2 linked regions of the Homo sapiens genome follow. The main gene of each other region encodes a partner of the protein of the gene in region 2 in a complex. Each region holds a gene or a part of one and is shown on either strand. Other genes may lie near its edges.

The links. Proteins that work in one complex are often made in the same cells at the same time.
Region 1: the proteins of MYO7A (region 2) and USH1C are in contact, whole or in part, in a crystal structure (PDB 5MV9), measured with the Homo sapiens proteins. Residues at the interface, in NP_000251.3 of Homo sapiens: Phe1946, Val1953, Ala1976, Lys1995, Lys1996, Trp1998, Gln2017, Pro2020, Lys2021, Arg2024, Tyr2026, Ser2112, Ala2113, Phe2114, Phe2115, Glu2116, Val2117, Lys2118, Ile2128, Ser2161, Gly2163, Asn2164, Thr2165, Tyr2166, His2168, Leu2181, Glu2183, Thr2184, Ser2185, Leu2186; in NP_001284693.1 of Homo sapiens: Glu450, Pro456, Ile457, Val461, Val462, Ser463, Tyr466, Glu467, Lys479, Gly480, Pro522, Tyr526, Asp527, Asp528, Glu529, Leu530, Thr531, Phe532, Phe533.

Annotation. Positions count from the first base shown.
Region 1 is NC_000011.10:17,534,052-17,541,688, forward strand, and holds part of USH1C (harmonin), read right to left. Parts: intron 1-7,637. UniProt on the Homo sapiens protein: Anchoring/scaffolding protein that is a part of the functional network formed by USH1C, USH1G, CDH23 and MYO7A that mediates mechanotransduction in cochlear hair cells. Required for normal development and maintenance of cochlear hair cell bundles.
Region 2 is NC_000011.10:77,123,834-77,131,882, reverse strand, and holds the start of MYO7A (unconventional myosin-VIIa), read right to left. Parts: upstream 3,638-8,049; 5' UTR 3,394-3,637; intron 1,295-3,393; 5' UTR 1,249-1,294; coding exon 1,231-1,248; intron 1-1,230. Other genes in the region: CAPN5 (calpain-5), read right to left, coding at 8,013-8,049. UniProt on the Homo sapiens protein: Myosins are actin-based motor molecules with ATPase activity. Unconventional myosins serve in intracellular movements. Their highly divergent tails bind to membranous compartments, which are then moved relative to actin filaments.

The DNA.
Region 1 (7,637 bases), about 60 Mb from region 2:
CTGAATTCCACTCCCTGAGTTACCTCAGTGTGAATCTCTACACTGTATTTTTGGGTCTCTCTTCAGCCCAAGAACGGGTAACAGAGCAAGGTGGAAGCTTGGGGGGTCACTGGGTCCCTCTCTCCTCCAGCCTCCCGGCCCAGGGCCTCAGCCCTTCATAGAGAGGCTGCAGCTGGAAGCTGCATGCTCTCCACTGACTCGTCCTCAGAAGAGGGCCAGAGCAGCGTTACCTCTTTCTGTGGGTATCCCAAGGGTTCTGGAAGACCGGGGCAGTCTGTCCGTCCCACCACAGAGGGGACATGCTGGGCCCAGCCCTTGGGATTTCTGGCCTGAGCAGGGGGTACAGAATGCAGATTTCTGGCCTAGATCTGACAGTACCTCCTTCCCTATAAAATCAGACTGAGCATTTCATTAAAGGTGAGAATAACTTGGGAGGCTTGACTCACAGCTTGGGCTTTAGTTGCTACAGAAGTTCAGCCCACCTGCTCCAAAAGGGCACCCTTGCTTTCTCCCTACCTCAGTGCAAGGAGTTCCCAGCTAGGGCTGGGTGCGGTGGCTCACGCCTATAATCCCAGCACTTTGGGAGGCCGAGGTGGGCAGATCACCTGAGATCAGGAGTTTGAGACCAGCCTCGCTAACATGGCAAAACCCTGTCTCTATTAAAATACAAAAATTAGCTGGGCGTAGTGGTATGCCCCTGTAATCCCAGCTACTTAGGAGGCTGAGGCAGGAGAATCACTTGAACTCGGGAGGCGGAGGTTGCAGTGAGCCAAGATTGCACCACTGCACTCCAGGCTGGGTGACAGAGCGAGACTCCATCTCAAAAAAAAAAAAAAAAAAAGGAGCTCCCAGATGACAGGAGATGGAAGCATCTGCTTGAGTGGGTGGTACTAAATCTTAGGGTGGGAGGCTGGCCTTTCGCACCCACCACCTCTGAAAGCTCATCTCTCCACATAGCCTGGATTCTCTCACCCCCTCTGCTCAGGCCTGTGGGGCAGGGGTGCCTCCCTGAGACAGGCCTGGGCTGCCCACACTGGGCTGTGATGGAGGAGTATGAACTCTCCTAGCAGCAGGGGCGAGAAATATCTTTATAAATTAGATATGTTGCTTGCTTGCTCAGTAGTTTCTTGTACCCCAAACCAAACCTAAATCCAAACTCCTTACTTTGACTTATCAAAGCCCAATCTCCTCTCCTACCAGTCTTCCTGGCTACAAAGTCCTCCTTTCAGTTCTTCCCACAGGCCGAACGCTCTCCAGCCTCAGGGCCTTGGCGTATGCTTGTTCCCTCTGCTTGGACTGCTTCCCCCACTTCCCTGCCTGGCCACCTCCTTTCCAGAGAGGTCTTCCCTGCTCACCTACCCAGACAGAACCGACTCCTGCACCCCGGAGATGTTTCAATTCCTTCACAGATCGACTACAATTTGTAATTTAAGGTTTGTTTTCTCTGTGAATTGTTTTCTCTGTCACCTTCGCTGGACAGAAAAATCCCATGAGGGGAAAGATGAGATCTATTTTGTTCTAAATTTCTCGTGCCCAACACATAATAAGCTCTCAATAAAGAAGTATTGAATGAATTTATCTGCCTGCCTCCTGGTATGCCCACATGGTTCAGGTGGGAGGGAGGTAACCATGGGAACAGAAGGGGAAGGGAAATGATGTTGTCCCCATAATGCCCCATGCGGTGGCACCAGGAGCTTTTCATGGGCTTTATTCCATTTGTTTATCACATTGGGGCAATATTCTCACATAATGCTGCAGCTGAGGAAACTGAGGATCAGAGAGGTTAAGTCAACTCACCCAGTGTCCCACAGCTAATAAGCAGAGCTAGGATATGAACCTAAGTCTGACTCCAAAGCCCATGTTCTTTCTGCTACGCCACGATGACCATTGATTGTGACTCAGGCCTGGCAGGGGAAAATAACTCCCAATGTCCCTTTAGGCCAAAATTTCCAACCCTTTGCTTTCAAGAACTCCTTTCTTATCTCTAAGCCCCATCTCTCTCCTCTGCACTGTTAAGAAAACACTTTTGGCTTGGTCTATAATGAGTGAGAAAATGGGACATCTTTTGAATGACTCTTTGAACCCAAGTGTTGTACTTTCTAAGGGGAGCATAAAAATCACGTCTGCTTTGGCTGAAGAGAGGACACCCTGACTAAAGACTTCTAGCCTAGTTATAACCCTGGGTGGTGACACAAGAAAGAAGATGGGACAGAGAATCTCTTATTGACTGAGGCCTTAGGACTGAAGTTCCCTCTTATCCCTCTTTGCAGAAATGTATCTTGCTGTAGCATTAGATTTCAGTAGTGAGGAACTGTCCTCCTTAGACCATGTTTATTGTGCATTAGGTGGAAAACTGAGGTAGAAGAGTAAGGTAACTTGCAATGTTAGGGTCTAGGGTTCTGTTTTTCTCCCTTCCCTGGGCCAAGCACAGATCACTTGGAGATGGTCTTGGTGGAAAGGAGCCTGTCCCTGAAGGTCCCGGGCTCCTGGCCCTTGTCAGCAGCCCTCCAGCACTGACCACTGCTCCCAGAGGTCTCATCCTACCTGTCTCCTGAGACAGCTGCAGAGCTCAGCTCTTCGGCCTCATGTCCACCCACTGTCACCGGTTAGGTCACTCAAACCCTGTCCTCAGTTCTGCCATTGCTCGCTTCACCACATCCCAAGTGGGACTCAGCTGCAGTGGAACAGATCCTTCCCCTGACACACTGGAATCTCCTTGTCCTCACTCAGAACATTCCATCTACCGCCATGTCTGACTTGTCTATTTAAACAATTCTCTATAGACCATACCAGCTAACAGGGAAAATAGATCTGGTTTGTGTAGAATGCTCTTTAAATATGAATCTAAGTGATAGATCATCAAAAACTTGAAAACTGGTTACACAGGAGATCCTGCAAAGGGAGGGATCATTCTCACCCAGAAATATCTCAGAAAGACTCAGAAAGAACAGCACTGCTTTGTTCTCTGACCACACCTGAGTGAAAACACACACTCACACCTCACTCTTCAGGCATTAAAAGGCACCAGGAAAGAAAGCTGAGAAAGATGGAAGTTTCTCTAAAGCCTGAACGTGCAGTAACAATACCACCATCACTTAAATTACTTTTTCTTTGTAGTCTTCCCTGTGGTCCAAATCAAATTACTTTTCCAATATTAAAAAATTATATAGTTTCCTCTCTTCTGGAATTCTGCCTAGCACTAGCCCGAGGATCAGTTTTGGGGAGCCCCTGCTCTAGGGTGCTTTGTACCATTGTCCCAGTACCCTGTACTCAGGTACATACGAAGCACTAGGCACGCAGTAAATCTCCCACACTCCTTTCTTCCCTTCCTTCCAAACATGTTCTTCATTTCCCTGTGGAACCCAGAACCATGTCATGCACACAAGCGCACGGTGCCCAGTGGCGTCCGTTGATGAAACGTGAACTCTATTTGCTCTAGTCTAGAGCCTTCTTTCTGACCTGTTGGCCCAGGCCTGGGTCACCACCTTTCCACTGGTCCTCAGCACATATATTCTGGGTCTGCCTCCCCTTAGTTCACTTCCAATTCATCACAAAAAAGTAGGTCCCAGCGACTCCATCTATCCACAATGGACAGCTTTCCTCCTCTCATCTGAATCCTGCCTTCATTTCAGATGAGGCCCAAGTCCCCTCTTCTAGAGTCTGGAGCCTCCTCACCTGCCTCCCAGCCTGAGTCTCTTTCTGTCTGGCTCACTTATCCCAGCCAGCCTCTCCCTACTGACTGTCCACTGCCTGAGGAACTTTACGTGTATTATCTTTAATATCCTAACAACCCTCTGAGGTGAACGTTATCATCCCCACTTTACAGATGAGGAAACAGAGGCTCAGAGAAGTGACAGAATTGAGACCCCAACCTATGCCTACTGGCTCCAAAACCTCTGCTTTTTTTCAATCTACCACATGGTATCCACTTATGAAATATAACTCCTTTGTTGTCCACTTGTCCATTACACATCTATTGAACACCTACTGTGGGAAAGACACCAGTCTTCTTTCTCCGACTAGATTTAGAAAGCCTTTCCTTTTCTTGGATCCCTCTTGATATTAAGCACAGAAGCCCTAAAGGAGCCCACCATCTACAAATAGCTGTTGGGGATCTCTATTATCATCCCTGCTACCCCCTGCCCCTGCTGCCAGCCCTGCCTAGATTAGCATTTGCTGACTGATGTTTCTCTGGCACTGTGCTATTGGTCTGTGTGGGAGGGAGGAGGGGACAGGGAGCATCTCCACCCTCACAATCTTCAGGCCCCTTGTCTAGGGTATTGGAGGCAAAAGCTGGGTTTGGCCATGTGGTACCCTCCAGTCTCATCCCTCTGTATTCCCCCATATGGACTGGCCCTTCAGGATAGCTACACAGGGGAACCATGGGACAGTCAACTCAGGAAGATTCAACTTTAGGTGTGCACCCAGCCAAACAGGGAGAAAGAGAGCCAGAACAAATTAAATAATGCATGTTGTTCTGCTTGATGAAGTCTCTTTGGGCTGTTGCGGGGATTAAATGAGTGAGTATGTGTAAAGCACGTATGACAATGCCTGGGACATTTCAAGGTCTCCAAAATGTGTGCTAGATCTTTTCCTTTCATGCCTCCAGCCTTCTCCACCCTGCCCTTTGTCCAGAGGGCTCTGCCTGGGCTCCTCTCCCCTCTGGCTTTCTGCTGTGTTCAGCCATCGGGAGGCACAAGCAGGAGATGAGAGGCGTGGGGAGACAGGAACTGAGGCTCCTAGTCCCTGGGGGCTGGCTGCTGGGCCACAGTTAGGCAGGTTCCTCCACCCAAGGCTGCAGCTGCTGTCTGGGCCTCTTTGGCAGCCCTGGTTCTCACCTGTTCTGGTAACCTTCCCTCTACTGGCCCCTTCAGGGATGCTGGCCTCCTGCATCTGGCCCCAGGGTGCAGCTTGTTGGGTCATTTAATCCTGCCCTTTTCTGTAGAACCTGTTCATAAAGCTTTCTTGGCTTCCCCCTTGGACGAGCCACCTGCTCCCTGCTGCCACCCTGGTTAGCCATTAGCAATGGTGGTACCAGCAGTATTTCCTCTCTGTGGACTCCTCCTCTATCTTTAAGACTCACTTCAAATGTCGCCTCTTCTTGGCCAAGTCTTTCCTTAGGCTCCCACACAAAGCTGGCCACATCTTTCTCTGTGCACACAACAGCACTTTGTCCCCAACTCTGCCATGGGACTCACCAAGCTGTGCTGAACTTTCTCCCTTTACCCTCCTGTCTCCCCACAAGCCTGTGTGTGGCCCAGACACAGGCCTGGCTTGTGAGTGTGGTGGTAGAGCCAAAGAACCCCTTCCCCAACTGGGTCTGCTCCTCTCTGTGCCTCAGTTTCCTTATCTGTAAAATGAGGACTAACATCTCTTTTTAAAATGGGATTTAATCACTATGAGAGATTAATCATTGTTTTTTAGTATTAATTTAATGAGTTAATAATTATGAAGAGTTCAGAACAGTGCCTGGCAGGTAGTAAGTCCTGTGTTTGTTACATAAAACTAAGTGACAATAAGTGGACATAAATTCTATATCCACAGCAGTGGGCAGCGAGTGGCCCTCTGTAGATGTTAGTGGGATGAATAGATCCAGCCACACTTCTTCCCAGGCCTTTAGAGTGTGCATCCCAGTGGTACCAGGCTTTATTTGACTCTCATTTTCTTATCATCCATCTTTTCTTTTTCTTTTGCTTTCTTTCTTTCTTGTCTAGGGTTCTCTCTGTCTCTGTCTCTGTCTCTCTCTCTTTCTTTTCTTTCTGTTTCTGTTTCTTTCTTTTTCTTTTTTTTTTTTTTTTTGAGACCAGGTCTTACTCTGTCACCCAAGCTGGAGTGCAGTGGTGTGACCACAGCTCACTGCAGCCTCAACCTCCAGGCTCAATTGATTCTCCTGCCTCAACCTCTCAAGTAGCTGGGACTACAGGTGCACAACACCACACCTGGCTAATTTTTGTATTTTTTGTAGAGATGGGGTCTCGCTATGTTGCCCAGGCTGGTCTCAAACTCATGGACTCAAGTGATTCTCCCACCTCAGCCTCCCAAAATGCTGGGATTTCAGGCGTGAGCCGCCACACCTGACTTCTTTTCTTTTTCTGGAACCACTTTATTGAGGTATGCCTGACATGTAAAGCGCTGTATATATTTAGTGTATACAACCTGATGAGTTTGGGGATAAATGTGCACGTGTGAAAGCATCACCACCATCAAGGACATAGACAGTGCCCTTCATCTTTTCAGAGGCTCTTGACATGTCAGCTAGTTTGTAGTATTTCACCCTGTGCCTGGCACAGCAATCACGCCCTGCTTCTCCTTGCTTTCCTTCCTCGCTTGCTGCTCCTTCTCCTCCAAAAGTTGAGGTACCCCGGGCTCTGTCCTAGGTCTCCTCTCCATCTGCACTGTCTCTCTAAGTGACCTCATTCATCTCAGGGGTTTAAATACCACTCACACCCCCAAGGACCTACCGATGCTTATCTCCAGGCCAGACCTACAGCCTTCTCAGTCACCTCTAGCAGGCGTCTCAAACTTACAGCATTCGAAGTGGAACGCTAGGTTTCCACCACCTCCTGCTCCGTCTCCACCAACCTGCTCCGTCTCCACCAAATGTGGATTCACCCTTGATGCCTCTCTTTCTACGCTCGCAGCCAATCCATCAGCAAAGCCTGTCAGTTTTTCCTTTAACATGTATCCTGAATCCGACCCATTCTCACCCGAGTCCGAGCCCCTGCCTCTGGCCTGGGCTCCTGCAGGAGCCTCCTGACTGAGGTCCCCTTCTACTCTTGGGCCCCTCAGTGGATTCTCTACAGAGCAGCCAGAACAATTCCTTTTAAATGTAAATCATTCACACTTACAAGAAAATCCTGACCTGACCATGGCCTACCAGGCCCCTACCACCCCTCCGACCCATTTCTCACCATTCTCCACTCACGATTCCTCTGGGACACACTGTCCTACTTGCTGTTCCATACAGGCGGGCATCTGCTTGCCTCAGGGCCTTCACACTTGTTGCTTCCACTTTAGGGAATGCTCTTCTACATGTATCTCTGTGGCTCCTTCTCCTCACTTCTTCTAGGTCTCTGCTCAGATGTCACCTCTTCAGAGAGGCCTTCGTGACTGCCTACCTTGTCACTTACTATCTCTCTCTCCCCATCTTAGTTTATTTTTTCATAGAATTTATCACTATCTGGCATTGTATGATACTTTTGTTGATTTCCTTTTAACTACCTGTCTTCCCTACTGGAATGTACTGTCTAAGACAGCAAGGGCTTTATTTTGTTTTTTGATGCTTAGAGTACTGCCTGGCATATATTAAGGGCTCAGTCAATATTTATTGCCTATGTGAATAAATGAATGATTAACAAATTCCTAGAGAGTGGTGGCTCTTTCTGATCTTATTCATCCCAACCGGTTGTCAGATGCCTGGCCTCAGGCAGAATACACAGCTATGCTCATAAATGCATGATTGCTGAAGAGGCAATAAATACTTTTAAGCCAATGAGTAACCAAGTTCCTACCCTGTGCTGGTGCTGCGAACAGAAGAGCAGTCTCCCTTTGAAAGCTGGTTCTCTGAGGGAGAAAACAGTCTCTGACCAAGCCCTGCTCCCCCACATCCTGGCCCAAGGTTGCTACTAGTTACTGGA
Region 2 (8,049 bases):
GGCCTGTGCAACTGCAGAGCTGGCCGGTTCCCCAGGGCTGGGGCTTTCTTCAGGACCAAGGAAGGAGCTGAGTGTACTTCCTGCTTGAGGGCAGGCAGAACAGGCATTCACCTACAAGACACTTGCTCCCAACAGAGGCCACCCACAGCTGGAGGTGGGTCAGCGTTCAGAGGGGCAGGAGAGGAGGGGGTGGTGAGGAGGTCCCATCAGCCAGAGGCCTGCCTCAGAGGCCCCCTGAGGGAGGACGCCCCTGGAGGGCTATGGGGGCCCAGGCCCTGGCACACAGCAAACACTCAGCGAATGGACTTTTCCTCTCCTAGATCCTGCCCATCTCTAATGGGCGTTTGAACAGGCTCTCAGGCCAAGGGGCTCTAAAGGGGGTCTCCTCCAGCCCCTGGGATAGAAGAATGTCTGTCCTGATGCTGCCCTGAAGCCTGCCTCTCACTCACACACACAGACACACACACGCGCACGCACTCATATGCAAACATGCTGGTCCGTGCAGCCTCAGGGTGGCCAGGCAAGGCTGAGCCATTGGCCTCTGGTGACCCTGGAGACCGAGAAGCTGCTGGCCAAGCCCCCATAATGCACAGCCCCACAAGCCCTACGGCCTGCTGCCAGGCCCACCTGGCTCAGGGCCCACATTCCTGGCTCCTGCTCTGGAGGCCAGGAGCTCATTAGAGCCTCAGACTGATCACGGGGAAGGGCTGAGGGTCAGAGGCCACTGTGGCCCTCAGTAGGAAGGGGGGCTGGAGGACTCAGCTCGGGCCAGCACCTCTGCTTCTTCCCATAAAATCCCAGGGGGCTCCAGCTCAAGCCTTGTCACCCCCCGCCCTCCAGTCACTGCTCCCCAAGGCCCTAAGAATAAGTTGGGCTCAGGGCCCTTCCTGGCCTGGCTTTGGGAGCCTTGCCAACCTCCTCTCCTCTTCCCCAGGGACCTTCCCACACCTGGGCCTTTGCACATGCTGTTCCACTGCCTGGGATCCAGAGATGTGTGTAAATAAACTCATTTCTGCCCAGTGGGGTGAGCCAGTGAGAGAAGGAAACCCCAGCTGGCACAGCAGAGGGAACAGGTTTCAGACTAGGCCTCAGCCTGGAGGGCTGGGTTTGGAAGCCTAGGCAGGAATTTTCCAAGAGAACACCCTGGGGAGGGTGTCCCACGGGTAAGCATATGGATGAGGGGATATGGCCTGGGGAGGACAGGCCACCCAAAGAGGTGGGAACACTGACCTGCTGAAGAATCACCATGGTCCCAAGTCAGGAGCTCCTGCTGCCCACTGGGCCAGGCACAGTTCTGCAGGGAGAGAGACCATGTCATGCTTCTGGGCAGGCCAGCCCTGGAAGCCTTGAGCCTGGCTGGGGTCACCTGGGCTCCTCCCAAAGCCCCAGCTCCTCCTCCCTCAAGGGAACCCTCCTTGGCTTCTCTCCCTCTGACCACTGCCCAGCCTGTGTGACCTGAGCCTCAGCCACTGTCACCAGCACCACTGCCCAGAGCAGCTGAATTCTTCTCTCAGCCACTGTCATTCAGAGATTCCCAAAGGGCTCCTAGAAAGTAGCAAGTCTGGCCCCACCAGGGACCTACGGCAAAGGGGCCCAGAGAGGGACCAAGACTTGCCCAGGGTCACACAGCTAGCCAGAGCAAATTTAGGACTAGGACTTAATCTCCGGCACTCAGCTTAGGGACTGCCCCAGGAATGTGGGTGACAAGGACAAGCCTGACTGAGCAGAAGGTCAAGGGCTGGGCATGACCTGCTCACAGCACACCCTGCCTGAAACCTCTCAAGAGCACCCACTGCCCTCAGGATGGCTCTGTGCAGAGCACTGGCTGCTGACGGGGAGGCAGGGTCATTGGGGTCTGTCTCTGGCTGTGCTGCTGAATGCACCGCACCTGGGCCTGGGCCCGGGCCCGGGCCCGCCCCGCTAGGCCCAGCACAATCTGGCCCCTGCTGATGCCTCGGTCTTTTCTCTCACTGCTCACTCCCTTTCCTACCCTTATACTTGGACATCCTCAGTGACTCACTGTTCCTGAAATACGCCAGCTCTTGCCATCTCCTGGCCTTCACACACTGGCCCTTCTACCTGAAATTTTGACTAGTGAATTTCCACTTATGGTTCATGGCTCAGTTCAGATGATACCTCCTCCAGGAAGCCTTCCCTGACCACTCCCAAGCTGCCAAGAGCCTCTATATTCCCCTTTATCCCATTTTGACTATATGCATTATGTTGTCAGGGTAAGGGTCAGTCCCACCTCTGCCCCCAAAGTTGGCGAGTTGATCCAGGGCAGGATGTGGCCAATGGGAGAGGGTCTGAGACATTGCCTTGTCTCCAGCCTTGTCCAGCACAGGGCCAGACCCAGAGACGGCCTCAGGAAGGAGCTTAAAAGGCAGCCCCAGCCTACAGACCCTGGTATGAGGCCCCTCTGGCTCCCAACCTGTCTCCTAGAATGCGCATCAATTTTTCACAAGGGCCCATTCAGAGCCGCCGGGGCATTCGATCCTCTGCCCATGACACTGCCCGACATCCGAGCCCTGACCCCTGCCCTGGAGCTCTGGGACACAGCAAACCCACAGTCCTTCCAGAGACCTGAACTAGTCTGGATGCCTGGTGGAGATGTGGATTCAACAGGGCCAGCAGGCAGTTGCCACCGGGCACTTGTCTGAAGATGGTGCCCAGGCTGTGGAGCAGGCGCCCTATGCCAGCATGAGCCATGAGGGCTGGGGGCAGAGCCAGTGCTTTCACTAGAGACATGGGGCTCCAAGGGATGGGGGAGAGTGGTGAGGGCGTGAAATTTAAGGGCCACATTTTAAAATGACCAGACAGACATTTCATTTCTAAAAATGAGAACTAGACCACCTTCAAGTTAATTTCTTTTCCAACTGACAACAGGGGGCATAGACTGTATTTGTATTTCTATGTCTATACCTGATTTTACCTCTTCCCCACTACAACCCTGGCTGTTGGGGCTTCATACTCCCATTTCACAGATGGGATATTTGGGGCATAGAGGAAGGAAGTGACTTATCCAAAAACGGAGATAAAGAGTGTCAGAGAGAAAGCAAAGGAGACAGAGAGAACGGACTCTTCTCTCTGCCACCACAGCATGTCTATTCCCCTGGCCCCAGGATGCCACTAACCCCAGCCCCAGCTCAGAGAAGATTCGATGGACAACATGCTCCTTGGCTCTTCCCTCCTCCAGGGGACACACATCCATCTTCCCAGGCTCGGGACAGTTTCATTCAGTGGCTGTGGTGGCTGAGCCCTCAAGGGTGGCAGGAAGCCCAGTCCCAGGAGCAAGTGGCTGTGGGGCAGAGGCTCTAGAGGTAGCTCAAGTCCATGACTCCTCCACATCCAAACCCCTCCCAATGCCCAGGACAGTGGGCAGCCCATCCTTACCTGGGGCCCAGCTGCCCACTCTCAGTGACCTGCCAGCCTGGTACAGCTGCCACCTGCACGGAGGACTCAGGAAGCTGGGTCACGGGCCCAGCCAGTCTGCAAACACACGTCCCCTCTTCCTCTGTCTGGCTCCAAGTCTCGTTCTAGGCGTCCCTCTGGGTCTTTCCCTTCCTCGCCGTCTCTCTGTGTGTGTCTCTTGTCTCTCCCTCTCTCTCCTGCCCAGAGCAGCTGTCCAGCCAGCACTGCTGCCCTCCCCTCCTCACTCCAGAGCCTTCTCCCAGGAGGCGGAGCCGGAGGGGGCCTCCAAGGTCTGGGTGCGGTGACATCAGCGTGGGGGACGGGCCGTGCTGGGGCTGGGACTAATGTCCAGAGGCTGCTCAGGGCTCTGTGCAGAGCACTGGCTGCCGACAGGGAGGCGGGGTCATTGGGGTCTGTCTCTGGCTGTGCTGCTGAATGCACCGCACCTGGGCGTGGGCCCCCCAGGCTAGCTTCAGGTGCCTCCTGTTGTTTGCAGGACACCGCCTGCTGTCTCAGCACCTGAGCAGGAAACCGCACCTGATCCTGACTTAATCACTGATGTGCTGGGGTCTCAGCCCCATTTCTTCCTCCTCTACCTGGCTGTTTGGGACTCAGAGAGGGAACGGTCAGGCAGAGCATGGCAGGAGGGAGAGTGCTGAGCTAAAGCCCTGCCTTCTGCGCCTTCTCCCTCCTGCACACCCACCCTTGCCTCTGATGTGTGTTCTCTGACGCTGGTCAATGCAACATTGCCCCCACAACCTGCTCTGCGGGTTGGGGACACATGTTATTCCGTAATCATCCAGAAACTTTGCCAAACCAGCTGACTGGGAGCCACCCCACGTGTGACAGCGACACAGATAAACTGAAGTGAAATCTGTGATTTAAAGGAGTGGGGGGAACCAAGCAAAGAGGAGCACACGTCTTTGTTATTAGCGTTGTCGAGGATGGAGACCTCGCGCGGCCCTATCGGGACATGACAGTTTCTCCTTTCCGCCCTCGGCAGCCACGCAGCTGTCGGCGGCCCCATAGTGCACCTCGCCAGGGCAGCTCTGGGTGGCAGAAGGATGTCTCTTTTGGGTCCCTAGCCCCCATAACTGGGGTGTCTGCAGGGAAGCTGCCCAGAAGGTGGGGTGGGGGCCCAAAGGGGCGCTATAGCTCGCCAGCGCCGCCTGCTGGTCACAGGCCCCACTGCCCAGCTGCTTCCGTCAGGCGGGCTGAGCACCGCTGGGAAGTGACCGTGACAGGAGTCAGCTTCTGCTAGGGCCTGGGTCCCCTCAGACCCGACGACCCTGTCCCAGGAAGACCCCAGGATGCCGTCTGCCCCTTAGCCTGCTGGCCTAACAGGAGTCCAGGAGTCCCTGGAACACAGTCCCCACCTGGGATTTGCACCTGCTGCCGAAACCCAGTACTGGCCACTCCTCAAGTCCCCCCTCTCCATCCTCCCAGGCTGGGCGGGGCCAGTGGCGTCAGCCCTACACGGATGGGGAAATGAGACCCCGGGGGAGCACAGGAGAGCCCATGGCACACGACTGGCAGCAGGGACAAAATGCAGTGAGCTGTGGGAATGGGGCAGAGAGGTGGGCAGGTTATGGGGGACAGGGCGGCCTCCAAACACCAGGATGACAGCTACATTGTGTTCAGCCATGCTATGAACCAGGCACTATGCTAAGCAGATCACACGATTTGCAATACCCATTTCTCAGTCCCATGAAGAAAGCGAGGCATCTCGGTTCACTTTGCCCTCACACTGCACTCACCCCGTCTCCCAAGTCGTTTTTCATTGAGTCGTCCACTCTGCTTTCAGTCATCCCAACCCTGCTTCTCCCCACCACCACACCAGCTTCCTGGCCCTAGATGCCTGCATCTGCCCTCAGCAGCCTCCGCTCTGGTCCCCCCACACCTTCCTGTGCCCCGAAGGCCCATCTCCTCTTCCCAGCCCTTCATGCACAGATCAGGGAGTAGGCCGTCTCTAACCCAGCAGGCCCACACTGCCCCATCAGTAATGTGCGGGGTAGTGTCTGTCATGACCAGAGTATGTCTTTGTTCTCGCTGCTCGTTTGTAGACTGTCCCAGAGCAGGGATTGCTATGCCTGGTTCCCCACATCCCAGGTGCCCGGGGCAGGCCTTGGCACAAAGCCAGCCCCGTACAGATCTACTGAATAAAGGAATGACTGAATGATCCCCACAATCTCAGCTCACAGGTGCACCGGGCAGGCAGCGGGGCCTTCCCTCTGACCAGCGGACAGTCGCCCAGGCCTGGGGAATATTCCTCCATTGTCCCTTCCCCCCAGGGGGACAGAGGGACACAGGAAAGTCTTTTTGGAATTTTGTAAGATTTATTGAGAATAGAACAGGCTTCCTGTCCCCTAACCCTGTGGTGGATCCTGAGAAGAGGGAAGCCTAGGTCTGGGTGGTGTGGGCTGGAGGCCCTACCCACCTGCAAATGGGGACTCCCAGGCCCCCGCGGGTGCATACAGTGAACAAAGTAATTGCTCTCCCCTATCACCCCTGATCCTTACCTGCCTGGCCCCCAAGGTCTCCTGGGGACCAGAGATCCCTGCATAGCCAGGAGCCAGCCTGGCCCACCTCAAGGGGCAGGAAGCAAGGGTAGCACTGTGGAACCTGTTTTTGTCAGGGGGTGGCAGGCATGCCCCGGCCCCGAGGCTGAAGCCCACAGGTCTGCCACTTGGTCCTGGTGTGCCCCTGTATCCCAGGGGACATGGCTGAGCAAAGTCCTATGTGTTAGCCTGAGGTGCAAGCTGGCTCACTTCACCCCCTACTCAGGAGCCTTGATTTGAAATAGACATCGAGAAGTGGTGATTACATGAATGTATATATATATATATATATATATATAGTGCGTGTGCATACAGAGATACATAGAGAAAGGGGTATTATTTTGCCCTTACTCAGCACTCGGTAGTAACAGTGCTGACACACAAGAATCATTGGCCCCACTTTGTAGAAGGGGGAAATCGAGGCACAGGAGGTTTAAGTGACTTGCTCCCAGTCATGCAGAGTCCCGGCCCCAGGCCCAGGTTCTTGAGGGGAAGTCCCGGCTTTCAAGAAAGAACACTCTTATCCTCCTTGTCGTTCATTTCCTGGCCCCTCATATGGCCCAGGGCCAAGACCCAGGAGCAAAGCCAGACACAGAGTGAGGAGGCAAAATCAGAGAATCCAGCACCTCCAGCCAGAACACTGATCCAGACAGCAGGATCTGGAGTCGGAAAGTCAGGTTCCCAAAAGGAAATCCCAGCAAGGACACAGGGATTCCTGTTCTTGAATTAACTGCACTTTTTCATTTGCTACACCTGGTCTGGAAGCCCGAGAAGGGCACAGCAGAGATCCCAAGTGGGTCACGGCACCAGTGCTCACGAAGAGTTCTCCAGAGGACCAGCAAAACTGGAGCCAAGAAGAAAAATGGAGGTTCAGGCTTTCAATTTTCTTTTAAAACCCCTGATTAAAATTGAGATTTTCAAAACAAAAAGAATATAAAACATTGAGGACTAAAAGGAACATTTTGGTCTGGGCAGGAAGAAGAGCACTGCGGCCTCCTAGGCTGCATTTTGGGGGAATGTTGGTGGGGGGCTGTGGTCAGGTGATGGGGCTCCCTATCTCCTGCCGAGCCCAGTGGGTGGCCTGACTCTGGTGAGCACCACACACCCCAGAGTCCCATCTTCCAGGAAAAGCTGGGGTCTTACAGCAGAGAGGCTCTGGGAGCACATCTCCCCTTCTGGTCCCCAAAGGCCCCCAGCTGCCTGGCCCCTGGCCCACTAACCCAGGCATGCTCCTTCCAGCACTGGGCAGAGGAGTCAGGAAGATGCCCTTCCTCACCCCCACTGACGCCACCTCTCCAGGGACCTTAACGCAGGGGCTGGGAATGGAATCGGAAGCTAGAATGAGCAGGCAGCAGCAGCTCCCCTAGGTATCTGCCTCTGAGAGGACCTGAGGACAGAGGCGAGGCCCAAGGCAGAGGCCGGAGTAGGGCCCCGCTTCACCTGGGGCCTCAAAGGTGTCGTTTATTCATTTGGCAAATCTCCACTGAGTGAGGAAATGGATGGGTGAGAGGATGGGATTAGAGAATGAACAAATGTCACCTGCATATTTTCCCAATTCCAGCCTGAGCAGGAACCCGGCAGGAGCCAAGAGTCCTTTCAAGGTGGGAGAACACCAGGTATTGCTGATGGGGAAAGTGAGGTCTGGGAGGCTGGGTTGGGCCTAGGACACGAGGGGCAAGAACGGAGCTTGGGGATGTGGCAGTTCGTGTGTAAACAAGTGACATCTTCTTGGCGCTCCTCGGCAGACAGCAGGGCCTTAGGAAAATGTGCTCAATGGATAGAGTCCCTTAGCAGTGGTGACAGTTGAGGTGGGGAGGACTATTTGAAATCTCAGCAAGGAAACTCCTCCACGAGAATGGAATGCTTCGGGGCCCTCGGGACACTGAGGCTGAGAGAGGGGCAGAGACTTCCTAAGGTCACACAGCAAGTCAGTGGAAGAGTGGGAAAAGGACCCCAGTATCCTGGCTCCCAGGCTAGACTCAGGCCCAGTGGGGACATGCAGATGGTGGTGGGAACGGTCAGAGCCAGGTAGGTGGGCAGGTGTCAGACAGCCATGAGGGAGGTGCTGCTGAGAATGTGC